3 linked regions of the Homo sapiens genome follow. The protein of the gene in region 2 interacts with the protein of the main gene of each other region in a pairwise test. Each region holds a gene or a part of one and is shown on either strand. Other genes may lie near its edges.

What was found. The genes of interacting proteins can lie anywhere in the genome.
Region 1: the proteins of TRIM41 (region 2) and ZNF329 interact in binary tests that used the Homo sapiens proteins (3 or more experiments, as listed by UniProt).
Region 3: the proteins of TRIM41 (region 2) and ZNF121 interact in binary tests that used the Homo sapiens proteins (3 or more experiments, as listed by UniProt).

The regions. Positions count from the first base shown.
Region 1 is NC_000019.10:58,140,783-58,147,817, forward strand, and holds part of ZNF329 (zinc finger protein 329), read right to left. Parts: intron 2,417-7,035; 5' UTR 2,323-2,416; intron 1,880-2,322; 5' UTR 1,798-1,879; coding exon of another isoform or gene 1,775-1,797; intron 1-1,774. UniProt on the Homo sapiens protein: May be involved in transcriptional regulation.
Region 2 is NC_000005.10:181,233,257-181,236,319, reverse strand, and holds the end of TRIM41 (E3 ubiquitin-protein ligase TRIM41), read right to left. Parts: intron 2,908-3,063; coding exon 2,885-2,907; intron 2,685-2,884; coding exon 2,557-2,684; intron 2,147-2,556; coding exon 1,545-2,146; 3' UTR 1,389-1,544; coding exon of another isoform or gene 1,230-1,388; 3' UTR 967-1,229; coding exon of another isoform or gene 916-966; 3' UTR 512-915; downstream 1-511.
Region 3 is NC_000019.10:9,581,498-9,589,126, forward strand, and holds the start of ZNF121 (zinc finger protein 121), read right to left. Parts: upstream 3,008-7,629; 5' UTR 2,964-3,007; intron 2,852-2,963; exon of another isoform or gene 2,689-2,851; intron 1-2,688. UniProt on the Homo sapiens protein: May be involved in transcriptional regulation.

The DNA of each region.
Region 1 (7,035 bases), on a different chromosome or scaffold from region 2:
CTCAACACAGCCTCAATCTCCTGGGCTCAAGTGATCCTCCCACCTCAGCTTCCTGAGTAGCTGGGACCACAGTTGCACACCATCACACATAATTTTTTTTTTTTTTTTGAGTTAGAATCTCACTCTGTCTCAGGCTGGAGTACAGTGGCATGATCTCAGCTCACTGCAACCTCCACCTCCTGTGCTCAAGCGATTCTCTTGCCTTGGCCTCTTAAGTGGCACATGCCCCCATGCCTGGCTAATTTTTCTATTTTTAGTAGACAGGGTTTCACCATGTTGGCCAGGCTGGTCCTAAACTCCTAACCTCAAGGGATCTGCATGTCTCAGCCTCGCAAAGTGCTGGGATTACAGACGTGAGCCACCACACCCAGCCTAAATTTTTCTTTTTTTTTTGGTAGAGATGAGGTCTCACTATATGGGCCAGGCTGGTCTTGAACTCCTGGGCTCAAGCAATCCTCCCACCTCAGCCTTCCAAAGTGCTGGGATTACAGTTGTGAGCCACCACGCCTGGCTTAACACTCTTTTTTTTTTTCTGAGACAGAGTCTCGCTGTGTTGCCCAGACTGAAGTGCAGTGGAGCGATCTCAGCTCACTGCAACCTCCTCCTCCCGGGTTCAAGTGATTCTCCTGACTCAGTCTCCCGAGTACCTGGGATTACAGGCATGTGCCACCATGCCTAATTTTTGTATTTTCAGTAGAGACGGGGTTTCTCCATGTTGGTGAGGCTAGTCTTGAACTCCTGACCTAAGGTGATCAGCCTGCCTTGGCCTCCCAAAGTGCTGCGATTACAGGCATAAGCCACTGTGCCCGGCCTGGCCTAATGCTCTTGGCCAGGTGCAGTGGTTCATGCCTGTAATCCCAGCACTTTGGGTGGCTGAGGCAGGTGGATCATTTGAGCTCAGGAATTCAAGACCAGCCTGGGTAACACGGTGAAACCCCATCTCTACTAAAAATACAAAAAATTAGCCAGGCATGGTGGCATGCACCTGTAGTCCCAGCTACTCGGAAGACTGAGGCAGGAGAATCGCTTGAACCCAAGAGGCGGAGGTTGCAGTGAGCCGAGATCATGCCATTGCACTCCAGCCTGGGCAACAAGAGCGAACCTCCATCTCAAAAAAAAAAAAAACAAATTAGCCGGGTATGGTGGCCCTCGCCTGTAATCCCAGCTACTAGGGAGGCTGAGGCAGGAGAATTGCTTGAACCTGGGAAGCAGTTTGCAGTGAGCCCTGATCGTGCCACTGTACTCCAGCTCGGGTGACAGAGCAAGACTACATCTCAAAAATAAAATAAAATAAAAAAAGACCCATGCTATAACATGAAACATTTTCCTAAGTCTAACAAGCCACATACAAAAGACCACATACTGCAGGCTATTTATATGAAATGTCCATAACAGGCAAATCTATAAGACAGAAAGTAGATTAGAGATTACCTAGGGCTGGGAAAGATGGGGGAGTGACTGCTAATGGTATGGGTTTTCTTTTTCAGGGGTGATGAAAACATTCGAAGATTGACTGTGGCAATGGATATACAAGCTAGTTAATATAATAAAAAACAATGAATTGTACACTTAAAAGGGTAAATTGTATGCTATGTGAATTATATCTCAATAAAGCTGTTTAAAAGAGTAAGTATGTGTCGAGTCTGTAAGGGTCAGAACCACTAGTCTAGACCCCATCTGCCACATTTCTGGTATTTTAGGACTTTATAAAGGAAATAACAGTCCTTGCAGGGATGTGCTGAGCTCATGTAGACTTCCATTCCCTGGTACTCACCTCTGAAAGGCAGAGGGATCCATTCAGGCCAGGTGTGTGGATACTTGACATCGATGGTTGCTGGACATTAGCCATTTATGCCCATCCACACGGCTCCAGCCATCTCTGTGGGACACCCATAATAATGTTTACTTTACTTGTTCACAACTCATTAACAAAAATAAATCATTTACCAACTTTAATCCCATCCTGACAAAGTCAGCCATGTGATTACAAGTGTGATAAAGAGTCTGACTCCATTTTGGATGGTTGCTGACAGCTTTCAAGCCCCAACCCCTTTCTCCTTCTCCCTCTCATCTGGGCAAGCCAACAAGAAAGTCTGGGAGTTTCCTCCTTGGTGCCAGCAGGAAGTTCAAACTATGCAAGCCCCAACCCCAACCCCATTACCTAATCACAGTGAAAGCCCAGCCACAGCCGGGTGCACTGGATAACACCTGTAATACCAGCACTTTGGGAGGTTGAGGCAGGAGGATCACTTGAGCCTAGGAGTTCAAGGCCAGCTTAGACAATGTAGTGAAATGCCTTTAGCCAGGCGTGATGGTGCATACCTGAAGTCCCAGCTACTTGGTAGCCCAGGAGCTCAAGGCTGCAGTGAGCTGTGATCGTGCCACTGCACTCCAGCCTGGGTGAGACAGCAAGACCCTATCTCAAAAAAAAGAAAACAAAAATTAACAAAAATTATATAGTATCTTTGTGGTGAAAACTTGAAAAAGTTTACTCAAGACCTGAGAGGGCATTTGAGTAAGAGAGGAGCTAGACCAGGTACACAGATGAAAGGGCTGGGTACTGAAACCAGGACAACTCTCACTAGACCTGTAAAAGCAATGCCTTCCAAGCAAATCTCTGGAATAATTTTACTGATGCGTGACAAAATTCACACTGAAGAAGACAGCTTCCTGAAATATCCATGACAACTCCTTAAAAAACAAAAAGAAGAGAGGAAAAAGAGCTAGGAGTAGTTGTTTTGCCAAAGTCAAGGCTCCTCCTTAAAGTTCCAGTAAGCAAGCAACCCAGTGAAGGTACAGGAAGGACAGAGCCCCAAACAGACTTGGAGGCATTTAATAATTTAAAAGGTGATAAAGGTGGCCTCACACATTAGCAAAAGTAAGTATATCTCGTGCTGTCTTTTCAGATGGAAAAATAATTACAATTCCAAATTCACTCACGCTCACACACAGGCTTATAAGACCTAAATAGTATGTGAGAAAAAATTTTTTTGAATGATTAGAAATAATAGAACTAGGCTGGGCGCAGTGGCTCACACTTATAATCCCAGGACTTTGGGAGGCCGAGGCAAGTGGATCACCCGAGGTCAGGAGTTCGAGACCAGCCTGGCCAACATAGTGAAACCCTGTCTCTACTAGAAATACAAAAATTAGCCAGGCGTGGTGGCAGGCGCCCGTAATCTCAGCTACTCGGGAGGCTGAGGGAGAAGAATTGCTGGAACCCGGGAGGCAGAGGTTGCAGTGAGCCGAGATTGCACCATTTCACTCCAGCCCGGGCAACAACAGCGAGACTCAGTCTCAAAAAATAAATAAATAAATAAATATAGAACTACAAGAATATCTTTGAGTTATCAGAGTAGAAAAAAATTGTGGGTTTTTTTGTTGTTGTTATTTTTTATTTTTTTATTTTTCAGATGGAGTCTTGCTCTGTTGCCCAGGCTGGAGTGCAGTGGCGTGATCTCAACTCACTGCAACCTCCGCCTCCTGGGTTCAAGCAATTCTCTTGCCTCAGCCTCCTGAGTAGCCAGGACTACAGGTACCTGCCACCACACGCAGCTAATTTTACATCTATATCTATCTATCTATCTATCTATCTATCTATATATATATATATATTTTTTTTTTGAGACGGAGTCTCGCTCTGTAGCTGGGCTGGAGTGCAGTGGCGCGATCTCGGCTCACTGCAACCTCCGCTTCCTGGGTTCAAGTGACTCTCGTGCCTCAGCCTCCCGAGTAGTTGGGATTACAGGCACGCGTCACCACACTCGGCTAATTGTTTATATTTTTAATAGAGATGGGGTTTCACCAAGTCGGCCAGGCTGATCTTGAACTCCTGACCTCAGGTGATCTGCCTGCCTCGACCTCCCAAAATGCTAGGATTACAGGCATGAGCCATGGCGCCCAGCCAAGAATTTTTTTTTTTTTTTTTTTTTTTAAAGAGACAGAGTCTTGCTTTGATGCTCAGGCTTGAATGCAGTAGTATGATCATGGCTCACTGTAATCTTGAATGCCTGGGCTCAGGAGCCATGACCATAGGAGTATGCCATCACACCTGGATAATTTTTTTTCTTTTTTTTTTTTTTTTTGATACAGAGTTTTGATCTGTCACCCAGGCTGGAGTGCAGTGGTGCGATCTCTGCTCACTGCAAGCTCTGCCTCCCGGGTTCACGCCATTCTCCTGCCTCAGCCTCCCGAGTAGCTGGGACTTCAGGTGCCTGCCACCATGCCTGGCTAATTTTTTGTATTTTTAGTACAGACGGGGTTTCACCATGTTAGCCAAGATGGTCTCGATCTCCTGACCTCGTGACCCGCCCGCCTCGGCCTCCCAAAGTGCTGGAATTACAGGCGTGAGCCACCGCGCCTGGCCATTTTTTTTTTTTAAATGTTTTGTAGAGATTGGGTCTCACTGTGTTGCCCAGGCTGGTTTCAAACTCCTGAGCTCAAGTGATCCTCCAGCCTCAGATTCCCAAAGTGCTGGGATTAAGGCGTGAGCCACCACTACATCAAGCCAAAAAAAATTTCTTTTTTCTTCCTTTTTTTTTTTTTTTTTTTTTTTTGGAGACAGTGCCTCACTCTGTCACCCAGGCTGGAGTGTAGTGGCATGATCTCAGCTCACTGCAACCTCCGCCTCCTGGGTTTAAGTGATTCTCCTGCCTCAGCTGCCTGAGTAGCTTGGATTACATGTGCCCACCACCATACCCAGCTAATTTTTATATTTTTAGTAGAGATGGGGTTTCACCATGTCGGCCAGGCTGGTGTTGAACTCCTGACCTCAAGTGATCTACCCGCCTCAGCTTCCCAAGGTGCTGGGATTATAGGCGCGAGCCACTGCGCCAAGCCAAAGAATTTCTCAACTCACAAAAGGCACAAAACATAAAGAAAAAGATTTGAAACATCTTACTATATCAAAATGAGTAATACACCATGAACATAAGATTAAAAGAACATTCAAAGTACCATCTCTAGAATGGCTTATCAATTACAGAGGGGAAAAAGCGGAGGATCCTGGCAGAGAGCACTTTAACCACATGACAAAAACCTGATCACCACCAGCCTCACATGCTTCCTGACACGACACACCAAGAAGAACATGATGTCACTTAGACAATGCCCTGCCAAAGACGAGAGTCTGAATTTAATATTGGGAATGTCAACTGAACATCAAGTGACAATCTACACAACCACCAGCTGGGTCTTTTAAAAATATATCAATTTCATGAAAAAAAAAAAAAAAGAAAGGAGAGTGCCATTCAAGGTTGAGGAAGACTAAAATAACATGACAAGTCAATGTAACACAGGATCCTGGATTGGATCCTGGATCAAAACAAATACCCAAAAACCATACAAACTGTATCAGCTGCATACAAACTATATCAGACAGGAATTCTGTATCAATAATAAAGTATCTGGGGCCAGGCGCAGTGGCTCACACCTGTAATCCCAGCACTGTAGGAGGCCAAGGTGGGCAGATCACTTGAAGTCAGGAGTTCAAGACCAGCCTGGCCAACATGGCGGAACCCCGTCTCTACTAAAAATACAAATATTAGCTGGGCATAGTGGCACACACCTGTAATTCCAGCTACTTGGGAGGCTGAGGCAGGAAAACCACTTGAGCCTGGGAAGTAGAGGTTGCAGTGAGCCGAGATCGCTCCACTGCACTCTACCCTGGGTGACGGAGTAAGATTCCATCTTTAAAAAAAAAAAGTAGGTGGTACCTGGTCAAGAGAGGAAGGTAGTCCCTCTCCCTCTCCCCCTCCCCCTCTCCCTCTCCCCACGGTCTCCCTCTCCCTCTCTTTCCACGGTCTCCCTCTGATGCCGAGCCGAAGCTGGACGGTACTGCTGCCATCTCGGCTCACTGCAACCTCCCTGCCTGATTCTCCCGCCTCAGCCTGCCGAGTGCCTGCAATTGCAGGCACGCGCCGCCACGCCTGACTGGTTTTCGTATTTTTTTGGTGGAGACGGGGTTTCGCTGTGTTGGCCAGGCTGGTCTCCAGCTCCTAACCACGAGTGATCCGCCAGCCTCGGCCTCCCGAGGTGCCGGGATTGCAGACGGAGTCTGGTTCACTCAGTGCTCAATGGTGCCCAGGCTGGAGTGCAGTGGCGTGATCTTGGCTTGCTACAACCTCCACCTCCCAGCCACCTGCCTTGGCCTCCCAAAGTGCCGAGAGTGCAGCCTCTGCCCGGCCGCCACCCTGTCTGGGAAGTGAGGAGCATCTCTGCCTGGCCGCCCATCATCTGGGACGTGAGGAGCCCCTCTGCCTGGCTGCCCAGTCTGGAAAGTGAGGAGCGTCTCTGCCCGGCCGCCATCCCATCTAGGAAGTGAGGAGCGTCTCTGCCCGGCCGCCCATCGTCTGAGATGTGGGGAGCGCCTCTGCCCCGCCGCCCCATCTGGGATGTGAGGAGCGCCTCTGCCCGGCCGCGACCCCGTCTGGGAGGTGAGGAGCGTCTCTGCCCAGCCGCCCCGTCTGAGAAGTGAGGAGACCCTCCGCCTGGCAACCGCCCCGTCTGAGAAGTGAGGAGCCCCTCCGCCAGGCAGCCGCCCCGTCTGAGAAGTGAGGAGCCCCTCCGCCCGGCAGCCACCCCGTCTGGGAAGTGAGGAGCGTCTCCGCCTGGCAGCCACCCCGTCCAGGAGGGAGGTGGGGGGCCAGCCCCCCGCCCGGCCAGCCGCCCCGTCCGGGAGGTGAGGGGCGCCTCTGCCCAGCCGCCCCTACTGGGAAGTGAGGAGCCCCTCTGCCCGGCCAGCCGCCCCGCCCGGGAGGGAGGTGGGGGGGTCAGCCCCCCGCCCGGCCAGCCGCCCCGTCCGGGAGGGAGGTGGGGGGGTCAGCCCTCCGCCTGGCCAGACGCCCCGTCCAGGAGGGAGGTGGGGGGCCAGCCCCCCGCCCGGCCAGCCGCCCTGTCTGGGAGATGAGGGGCGCCTCTGCCCGGCTGCCCCACTGGGAAGTGAGGAGACCCTCTGCCCGGCCAGCCGCCCCGTCCGGGAGGGAGGTGGGGGGGGTCAGCCCCCCCACCCGGCCAGCCGCCCCGTCCGGGAGGTGA
Region 2 (3,063 bases):
TACTATAACCTGGCCCTCAATCCCCCTACACACAAACACAGTTTATTCATGAGGATAGATGCCTTGTGAAAGGCCAGAAGTGAGCCATTAAACTACAATTACAGTTTCCAATAGAAACCTCAGTACAGGGATGGAATGGTTCAACATGCGGCTGAGACCCCACTACCCTTGCAATTTTCTGTGCTAAGCAACTACAGCATATTGAAGGCCCACATGCACCCTCCACTTCCTACTCCCCTCAATTTATAATGGTGATGAGGCATTTCTGGCTTCAGTTTCAACTACGTGTGGCAAACATCTCTAAGTAGACTGAACAGTTAGTAAGTTAGGTTAAGATATTAAAATGGGGAGCAGGGTCCACATCCCTGTTGAAATAGGAGCCTGCCTGGTAACAGGTGCAAAGCATGCCTTTAACTGCAACTAACCAGTTCAGTTGTGTGGCTTCTCACTGCAGGGGCGGCAAAGGAAGAAATCCTGAGTTACACCCTCACCTGAAGGAACAGACCTCACAAGAGAAGCAAATAAACATTTTATTTCCACAGCACGCCTTCCCTTTTCCCAAAGAACATGAGTTCACCTCAGCCATCAAAGCAGAGGGCGAAAGCTGCAAGTGACAAGGCAAGAGGCTCCTAGAAAAATAGATTATACCCAAGGCTCTCCTCCTGGGGACCCAAACCCGTCCCCAGGCTCCCCCTCAGAGCTTGCCAAATGGAGTGAAAGGCATGGAAAGGGGCTGGGAGAAAAGCCAGCTCCACTGAACAAAGGGGAGAGGAGCCTGGCAGTGAGCAGACCTGGGAGGGGTGTGGGGTGGGATGAGCTTTGCTCCTTGGTTGAGTGCTGGAAAAGGGAAGGGGGAAGAAATAATTTATGTTGATGTAATTAATGTAATGATGATGTAATGGTGCGTGGTTTCAATCATGGCGACCATTCCAGATCTCTCTCAAGTGAAGCTAAATTCTGGCCGGTCTATGGAGGTAGAAATTGAGGACGGAAGGAAAGTTTAGAATCCCTCCTCCCCAGGAGAATAGACATTTATTACCCAGCTCTACCCTTTGGCCCAGCCTGCCTCCCCAAATGGCTTCCAAATCCCTCAGCTAAAATCTGCATCAGAAAATGGAATTGGAATGGGGATGTTGCCTTGCCCAAACCCTCCAGCCTCAGAACTGATAAAGAGGTTGAAGAGCAGGGGTGGGGAAAAGGAAGTTAAGGAATGAAATTACAATTTCCCCTCATCCCCTACTCAAATTCCAGTCCCAGGGCTGGGCTAGGCAGACTGGGAGAGAAGACCAGGCAGCTGTTCTCATTATCAGGGACCCATGCAGACCTGTTGGACAGACATAGTAGGTGAGAGAAGGCTGAGCTGGAGGCCAGGAGGGTTCTTTAGGCTCCTAGAGGGAGAAGCAGGGGCCTGGGGTCAAGGGGGAGTGGGAAGCAACACAGTAACAAGCAGTGGGAAGAGCCTTTGAGCCCTCAAACTTACGGGCCACCCTCCACCACCCACCCCCCAAGTGCTGACAGAGGGGCCCCTGCGGGTGGCAGGATAATCAAGGGCAGAGCTTGATGCGGGTGCCCTTGGAGAGCACCCGGAAGAAAGGAAAGACACGCTCGCCCAGGAAGGCAGCCGAGAAGGTGTGCACGTGGGCTAGAGTCTCTGCGTTGTAGAAGCCCAGGCGCCCAGCTTCATAGTCCAGGTACACACCAAAGCGCCTTGGTTTCTCACTGGGGCTCAGCAGCGTCTGTTCTGTGGAGCTCTGGGCCTGATAGCGTTTGCCGTTGGTGCCCACGCACCACACTTCCCGCTGGAGCAGGGGCTGCTGGGGCAGGTGGAGCCGGCGGCGGCGATGGTGATGGCGCGAGGAGCTGGCATCCCCGCTGCCCACGGAGGAACCCCCAGGGCCCACCTTTTCCTTATGATGGGTTGATTCACGGGCAGCACCCACCGCCCAGCCCCGCCGCCCGCCCACCTCTACCTCCCAGTAGTGCCGGCCGGAGCGGAAGCCCTGGGCCCCCAGTACGCAGCAGTCGGCCGAGAAGCGCTTGGGATGGTCAGCAACCTCCTGCCGCCGCTCTGCCAGGCGGACCCCCCGGCGGTCAGGGGACAGCATCAGGGCCGGGTGAGCCGTGTCAGGGTCCAGCGTCAGGTCCACTTGGGAGGGAGGGAGGACAAATACGCCAGGGCTGGAACGGCTGTTCCCCTGTCAGCAGCCAACTCCACAGATTGGGCCCCCTTTCTCCCTGAATCCAGCTCCCCACACCATCCCAGAGGCCAGCCTCAGATTCCTGCAGGCTCATCTTGCTCCTCACTCTTGTTCCTAGGATACCTGACAGGTCTTCCCCCAGCCTGGCTCTTCCTGCCACTCCACCCCACCCCACCCTCCAGGCCTGCCTGCACTAGGTCTACCTGCTCATGGCTTGAAACCTCAACCTCAGAGTGGCTGCCTGGATCCTGCTCCATCTCAAGCCCCACAGTTTCCCTGGGGCCCAACTTCCCTCAGGACCCAGTCTCAGGTCTGTGAAGGGAAAGGCAAAGGAAGGTCGTGGAGGTGACCTCCCTACCTCTCGCAGCCTGACAGAACATCCGGCTCATTTTCCTCACGATGGCATCTGTCAGGAAGTCATGGCTATGGGGTTGGCACGGGTCAGGGGACCAGACCTCTGGGGGCTGCAGCTGTACCTCTTCACACCTGGAGGAAGGGGACCGGGCAGGGGGTGGGACCACGATATTCCCAGAGGGAAAAGCAAAAGCTGAGGGGAAGGAGAGGAGGGTCCAGGAGATGGAAACTCAGGTCCTGGGGAAGGAAGGAGAGGAGAGGGATACCGAAGAGAAGCAGGGACAGGGAACCAGATGCCACTGGGTCACGAAGGGCAAAGACTGGGAACACACCTATTGAAAGTCTCCTTGATGTCCTGGGAATAAGAGAAACAAAAAGAGGGAGAGGGAGAAAGAGATAAAGAGAGTGTCAGCTGCACAGGGACAGCGTTCCCCGATCTCCAGTCAGAGACTGAACCTGAGCAGGAAGGGAGAAGCAGCACCCTCACGGCCCTCAATGAACACACATCCAT
Region 3 (7,629 bases), on a different chromosome or scaffold from region 2:
ACGCTTTGTACTGTGGCATGCCTGGGCATCTAACAAAGGCAAAAAGGAGAAAAAAGGAGAAAAAGGGGGGGTACTATGAATTAGAGAATAAAAGATTGATGAGATTATTTGAAGAGAAACCTCATCATATCCTCATATCCCACAGTGTGACTCTCCAAAAGTCAATATAATATACAATAATAACTGTTCTAGGTAAAAAGACACTGAAAACATTAACAATTGCAATGTAAAAATCTTGAATGGATCTTAAACCCAAAAACATCCAAGAGCATACGTTGAATCAATGCGGAGAATTTTAGTTATTATAAAAAGCAGACATTAGATGACATTATTATTTTTTATTTAAGTGAAATACTAGTATTGTGGTTTCAGAATGACAGTGCTATTTTTTTAGGCGATGCATTACCAAGTATTTAAAGGTCAAGTATCACGTGTGCAATTATGCTCAATTTACACTCAAATTGTTCACCATAAAATGTATTTACCTGAGGTGAAAGAAAACAAGCACAATGCTCAAAAAGTAAGTGTTCAGGCACAGTGGCTCACACCTGTAATCCCAGCATTTTGGGAGGCCGAAGCAGGTGAACTGCCTGAGCTCAGGATTTCGAGACCAGCCTGGCCAACATGGTGAAACCTTGTCTCTACTAAAATACAAAAAAAAATTAGCTGGGCATGGCGGCATGTGCCTGTGTCCCAGCTACTAGGTGTCAGGCCTCTGAGCCGAAGCCAAGCCATCAGACTCCCTGTGACCTGCACGTATACATCCAGATGGCCTGAAGCAACTGAAGAACAACAAGAAGAAGCGAAAATAGCTAGTTCCTGCCTTAACTGATGACATTCCACCATTGTGATTTGTTCCTGCCCCAACCTAACTGATCAATTGACCTTGTGACATTCCTTCTCCTGGACAATGAATCTCAGGAGCTCCCCACTGAGCACCTTGTGATCCCCGCCCCTGCCCGCAAGAGAACAACCTCCTTTAACTGTAATTTTCCACTATCTACCCAAATCCTATAAAACTGCCCGACCCCTATCTCCCTTTGCTGACTCCTTTTCTGAACTCAGTCTGCCTGCACCCAGGTGATTAAAAGCTTTATTGCTCATACAAAGCCTGTTTGGTGGTCTCTTCACATGGACGCACCTAATGCTAGGGAGGCAGGAGAATTACTTGAACCTGGGAGGCAGAGGTTGCAGTGAGCCGAGATCGCACCTCTGCACCCCGACCCGGGTAGCAGAGCGAGACTCTGTCTCAAAAAAAAAAAAAAAAAAACTACTAGACTGGGTGTGTTAGATGTTCAAGTTTTCCCTAGGATCAAATTTTTCAGAAAAAAATGTCAAAACTACACTTAGTCTAAACATGCTGTTAATAAATTCAATAGATACTACTTTATTACACTAATACTAGAATAATATTCTGATTATAAAGCCTCCATCCTGGCCAGGAGCGGAGGCTCACGCCTGTAATCCCAGCTCTTTGGGAGGCCGTCAGGCGGATTACAAGGTCAGGAGTTCGAGACCAGCCTGGCGAGCATGGTGAAACCCTGTCTCCACTAAAAATACAAAAAAAAAAAATTAGCTGGGCATGGTCCCCATGCCTGTTGTCCCTGCTACTCGGAGGCTGAGGCAGGAGAATCACTTGAACCCAGGAGGTGGAGGTTGCAGTGAGCTGAGATCGCGCCACTGCACTCCAGCCTGGGCGACAGAGCAAGACTCCGTCTGAAAAAAACAAACAAAAGCCTCCATCCTTTCTTCCTGTGGGCCCGTTTTGAAGCTCTGTGGGGGGGTACAGACCTAGGAACTTCAGATAAAGACAACAGCTGTGTATTATTGCCTTTCTTTCTTTTTTGAGACGGAGTTTCGCTCTCATCGCCCAGGCTGGAGTGCAGTGGCAGATCTCGGCTCACTGCAACCTCGGCCTCTCAGGTTCAAGCAATCCTCCTGCCTCAGCCTCCCAAGTAGCTAGGATTACAGGGGACTGCCACCAAGCCTGGCTTTTTTTTTTTTTTTTTTTTTTTTGTGTGTGTGAGACGGAGTCTCCCTCTTTTGCCCAGGCTGGAGTGCAGTGGCGCGATCTCGGCTCACTGCAAGCTCCGCCTCCCGGGTTCACGCCATTCTCCTGCCTCAGCCTCCCGAGTAGCTGGGACTACAGGCGCCCGCCATCGCGCCTGGCTAATTTTTTGTATTTTTAGTAGAGACAGGGTTTCACCATGTTGGCCAGGCTGGTCTCGAACTCCTGACCTCAGGTGATCTGCCCGCCTCGACCTCCCAAATGGCTGGGACTACAGGCGTGAGCCAGCGCGCCCAGCCTGCCTTTCTTTTGTAGAAAGGCTTGTAGCTGGTAACAACAAAAAACATTAAGTCCAAGAAAATAAAATAAGAAACTAAAGGCTCACAGTCTACACGTGTTCATATTTACATGCAGATATAGGCACACCCTAAACGACTATTTTTTTTCCATCAGAAAGTAATGTGTCAAAAATAAGAATAGGACATCAATGCCAGATTCTCAGACGAGACATTTTTAAGCAAAGAAATGGAAGTCAGAGCCCTCTTGAAACCAATTTTCTGCAGGTGTTCACCAGGAACATGCCGGAAACGCCAGGTTCCTGAGGCGCGGAAATGCGGGGCCGGAGCCAACCTGACTGGAACGGCAGAAATCCTTTTACTTTCAGAAAGAAAGAAACTCACAAAGGTTGCTTTCCAAGCTTTTGAAGAAGGGAGCACAGCGGATGAAACCACTCCAGAAAACGCGCGGAGTCGGGACAAACACACTTCCCGACCTGGCTCCTGACTGGGACCCACTGAGCCTGCGGCCTCTAGCCACTGGCCGCGCAAGGAGGACCGACAGCCCCTGGAGAAGAGAGTGAAACGAGGCGGATCGGAGAGGCTCCTGGGCGACAGCACCCAATCGTTCCTTTGCCGCCCCCCGCTATCTCCGGGATCCCCAAGCAGGCGGAACTCACCACAGCCAGGGTGGACTCCACCACGATAAAGGCGAAATGGCACTGACCATGCGGAGCCAGCGCCGGAAAAGATGGCGATTGTGCGCTGACGTCACTTCCGCTCCGAGCCTCGGGCCGGGCGGGGCTCCTGGGTTCGAGTTTCAGCCACATAGGACCCAGTCAAACACAGAAATTGTAGTTTCTTCCCGGGTGGGCGCGGACAGGCCCTTACTTGGGGGCGGTTTAGAGGTGGGACCCGGCTAGCCGGCGGTTCAGGTGGCCGGACCTGCTGGAAGGGCGGGCGTGGGGGATGGGACGCACCCCAGGGGATGCTCCTGCAGAGCTTTTCCCAGGTGGGCACAGTGGCTAAGGCCTGTAAGTCCAACACTTTGGGAGGCTAAGGCAGGTGGATAGCTTGAGTCCAAGAGTTCAAGACCAGCGTGGGCAAAATAGCAACATCCTTTATTAAAATATATATGTGTGTATACATATATATAAAGCTTGTTTGTATACATCTCATGTTCCTAGAGCCTTTCCATGATTCTTCCATATGGATAAAGCTGCCAGTGAATGGCATGGTCTATCTCTTCTATTCAGTCAGGCTTTCTGTAGGCCTTTATTTCTTCATTCTTTATTTTTTAGAACCTGCTGGTTCCATTGCGTTTTCTTTTTTCGTTTTTCTTTTTCATTTTTTATTTTTTTTTGAGACAGATCTCACTCTGTTGCCCAGGCTGGAGTGCAGTGGCATGACCTCGGCTCACTGTAACCTCTGCCCCCCGGGTTCAAGTGATTCTCCTGCCTCAACCTCCCGAGTAGCTGGGATTACAGATGTCTGCCTCCACGCCCAGCTAATTTTTGTACTTTTAGTAGAGAAGAGTTTCACCATGATGGCCAGACTGATCTCGAACTCCTGACCTCCAATGATCTGTCTCCCTCAGCTTCCCAAAGTGCTGGAATTATAGACATGAGCCACCGCACCCGGCCACGTTTTCAATATAATAATATTTTCTGTAAATCTTGATTTTTTTTTGTCTTCATCAAGTATGTATTTCTGGCTGGGTATGGTGGCTTATGCCTATAATCCCAGCAATTTGGGAGGCCAAGGGATCGTTTGAGGCCAGGAGTTTGAGACCAGCCTGGGCAATACAGCAAGACCCCGTCTCTGTTTAAAAAAAATTTTAAATATGTTTTTGTTTTTGTTTTGAGATGGAGTCTAGCTCTGTTGCCCAGGCTGGAGTGCAGTGGCACGATCTTGCTCACTGCAACCTCTGCCTCCCGGGTTCAAGCGATTCTTCTCTCTCAGCCTCCTGAGTAGCAGAGATTACAGGCAGGCGCCGCCATGCCCGGCTAATTTTTGTATTTTTAGTAAAGACAGGGTTTCACCATATTGGCCCAGTTGGTCTCGAACTCCTGACCTCATGATCCGCCTGCCTCACCTTTCCAAAGTGCTGGGATTACAGATGTGAGCCACCACGCCTGGCCAAAAACATGTATTTCTATTGTTATTTTTCTGATCTTCCCACATGGGCCAGGACCACATTTCCTACATTGTAAAATAGCACTGACACCAGACATTCTCCCCAGGTTTATTCAGAAATGTAACATAATCCCAGTAAAAATATTAAAAGTTTTTTCTGGAGTTAGGTACGTTGATACTAAAGTTTATGTGGAAGAATAAATATCTGATAATAACCAAGAAAACAAAAACAAAAGCAATGATGAGCAGCAGATGTTAAAACATACTATTAACAGTTTTCACACAAGGCAAATAATTAAATTATATTAAAATAAAAATAAATAAGACATACTATAAAGCCTCTATAATTAAAACTATGTGGTACTAGCACATGAAGCAGAAACAGACTAATAAAATATCTAAAAACAGACCCAAGAACATGTAGGAATTTGGTTCATAAATGTGGTATTTTGCCAGGCGCGGTGGCTCATACCTGTAATCCTAGCAATTTGGGAGGCTGAGGCGGGAGGATCACCTGAAGTCAGGAGTTCGAAACCAGCCTGTCCAACATGGTGAAACCCTGTCTCTAATAAAAATACAAAAATAAAATTAGCCAAGCATGGTGGTGGGCTTTCTGTAATCCCAGCTATTCGGGAGGCTGAGGCAGGAGAATCGCTGAAACCCAGAAGGCAGAGGTTGCAGTGAGCCGAGATCGCGCCACTGGACTCCAGCCTGGGCAACAAGAGTGAAAATCCATCTCAAAAAAAAAAAAAAAAGGTATTTCAGATCAATGAGGCAAAAAAAGCCATTTGTAATGGAAAGTCTAAGACAGCTGGGTAGCCATCAGAGAAAAGATGAAATTAAATCCATACTTCACAGCATATACAAGAATAAACTCTAAATGGACTAGGGATCTAAATGTGAAAAATAAAACCATATACGCATTCAGGGTGTAAGTGATTTCTTGGCTGAGTAAGGAAAAAGACGTGACCACAAGGCGGCAGTAGCACACAAGCTTCATTTGGGATGTGCTTTGACAGGTAAGGAGTGGCGGGAGGTAGCAAACAGCAAGAGAATATCCACAGGCTTCTACCTGTGGGTCGCTGCTCAGAAAGGGTGGAAAGGAAGAAAGACTCCCAGAGGAGAAGGGGAATCAAAGAGGGGGCTTATATGACTAAGTGACGATGCTCAGCAGCCTGGCAGCATATCTTCCAGTTAAAAAGTTCTGAAGGACAAGTCTGGCCAACATGGTGAAACTCCGCCTCTACTAAAAATACAAAAATTAGCCGGGCATGGTGGCGGGCGCCTGTAATCCCAGCTACTCGGGAGGATGAGGCAGGAGAATTGCTTATACCCGGGAAGCGGCGGTTGTATTGAGCCAAGATCGCGCCATTGCACTCCAGCCTGGGCGATAGAGTGAGACTCAGTCTCAAAAAAATAAAAATAAAATATGTAATTATCTGTTCATTCTGAGTACAGGGAAACACTGATAGGACTATCCTGAAAATAATAAGATTCAGAATCTATCGGGGATAGATGGGAAGGGCTTGAACAGAATGGTGGGATAAGAACAAAATGGAGAGGATAGGGATAGGGAAACCTCTCTGAGCATATCATTCTGTTTAGTTCTGATGTTTAAAATCACATTCTACTTTTTTTTTTTCTTTTTGACAGGGTTTCACTCTGTCACACAGGCTGGAGTGTAGTAGCGTTATCATTGCTCAGTGCAGCCTTTACTTTGTGAGCTCAAGTAATCCTCCTGCCCAAGTACCAGGGAATACATATGTACACCACCACATCCAGCTAATTTTTAAAAATATTTTGGGTAGAGAAGAGATCTCTCTATGTTGCCCAGGCTGCTCTTGAACTTCCAGTCTGTCACATATAAAGTTTTGGTGCCACAAAAGAAATAACACTTGAATATAAAATTTTCTTTTTAATTCTCAGCAAGGCAAGATACTTCTATAGAAGGGTGCACTCTCACAGATGGAGCAATGGTGGGCACACACCTGGACAAGGGAGGGAAAGGGGTTCTTATTCCTGACACACGTGGTCCCTACTGCTCTGTCGTTCCCCTACTGGCTAGGGTTGGACCTCACAGGCTAAACTAATTCCGATTGACTAATTTAAAGAGAGTGATGGAGTGAGCGGTTTGGGAAAAGGGTGCTTTATGAGGAAGTTAAGTTTAAAAGTAGAAGGCAAAGAATTGAGCATACTGACATATTAATTCTTTGAAGAGAAATTTATAATTCATTTTCAACAACTTCCTCCTCTTGCATTTTTTTTATGGCTTTCTCTTCAAACTTATTTAACATGTCTTGACTTAGTTGTTCTGCTTGATTTTCCAAAAGAAGGAGCTTCTCTGGATAAGGTGGAGGATAGTTAAAGGAGGTTTTAGTAAGTGCCATTTCTATGAGCCTCTGCACCAACCTACAGATGCATGGTATGACACGGCACCTGACAAGGATAAGTACACCCATTACGGCTACAAGGGAGGTGAGAATTGAGGCTATTATTCCTTTCCATTTACCGAACCACTTTTCTAGCCATTCTGTAAATGGGTAATTTACCCCTGAATTGCTGGCCAACTCATTGGATAGAGGAGTCAGGCCTTGCAATGCCTTTCTTATACTTCCATTAGGGGCCGTGTTGTTTGGGATGAAGTTGCAACAATGAGTTTTAATAATGATGCAAACTCCTCCTCTTTCTGCTAATACCATGTCTAAAGCTATCCTATTTTCCCAAGCCATCAGGTTAGTAGCCCCCAATTGCTCAGCTATTCCTTTAACAGCATCTCTAGTGTAGTTAATAAATCGCTGTTGGTTGTAATAGATGTAGTTTACCCAATCTACATTTTTTTTTTTTTGAGATGGAGTCTCACTCTGTCACCCAGGCTGGAATGCAGTGGTGCGATCTTGGCTCACTGCAAGCTCCGCCTCCTGGGTTCATGCCATTCTCCTACCTCAGCCTCCTGAGTAGTTGGGACTACAGGCACCTGCCACCATGCCCGGTGAATTTTTTGTATTTTTAGTAGAGACAGGGTTTCACCGCGTTACCCAGGATGGTCTCAATCTCCTGACCTTGTGATCCGCCCGCCTCGGCCTCCCAAAGTGCTGGGATTACAGGCATGAGCCATCGCGCCCGGCCCACCCAATCTACATTTTTATTAACTGTCGCCTACCAAAATATTGACTTAAATCCTGCAGCTATTGGATTTTGGGCTTTAAATTG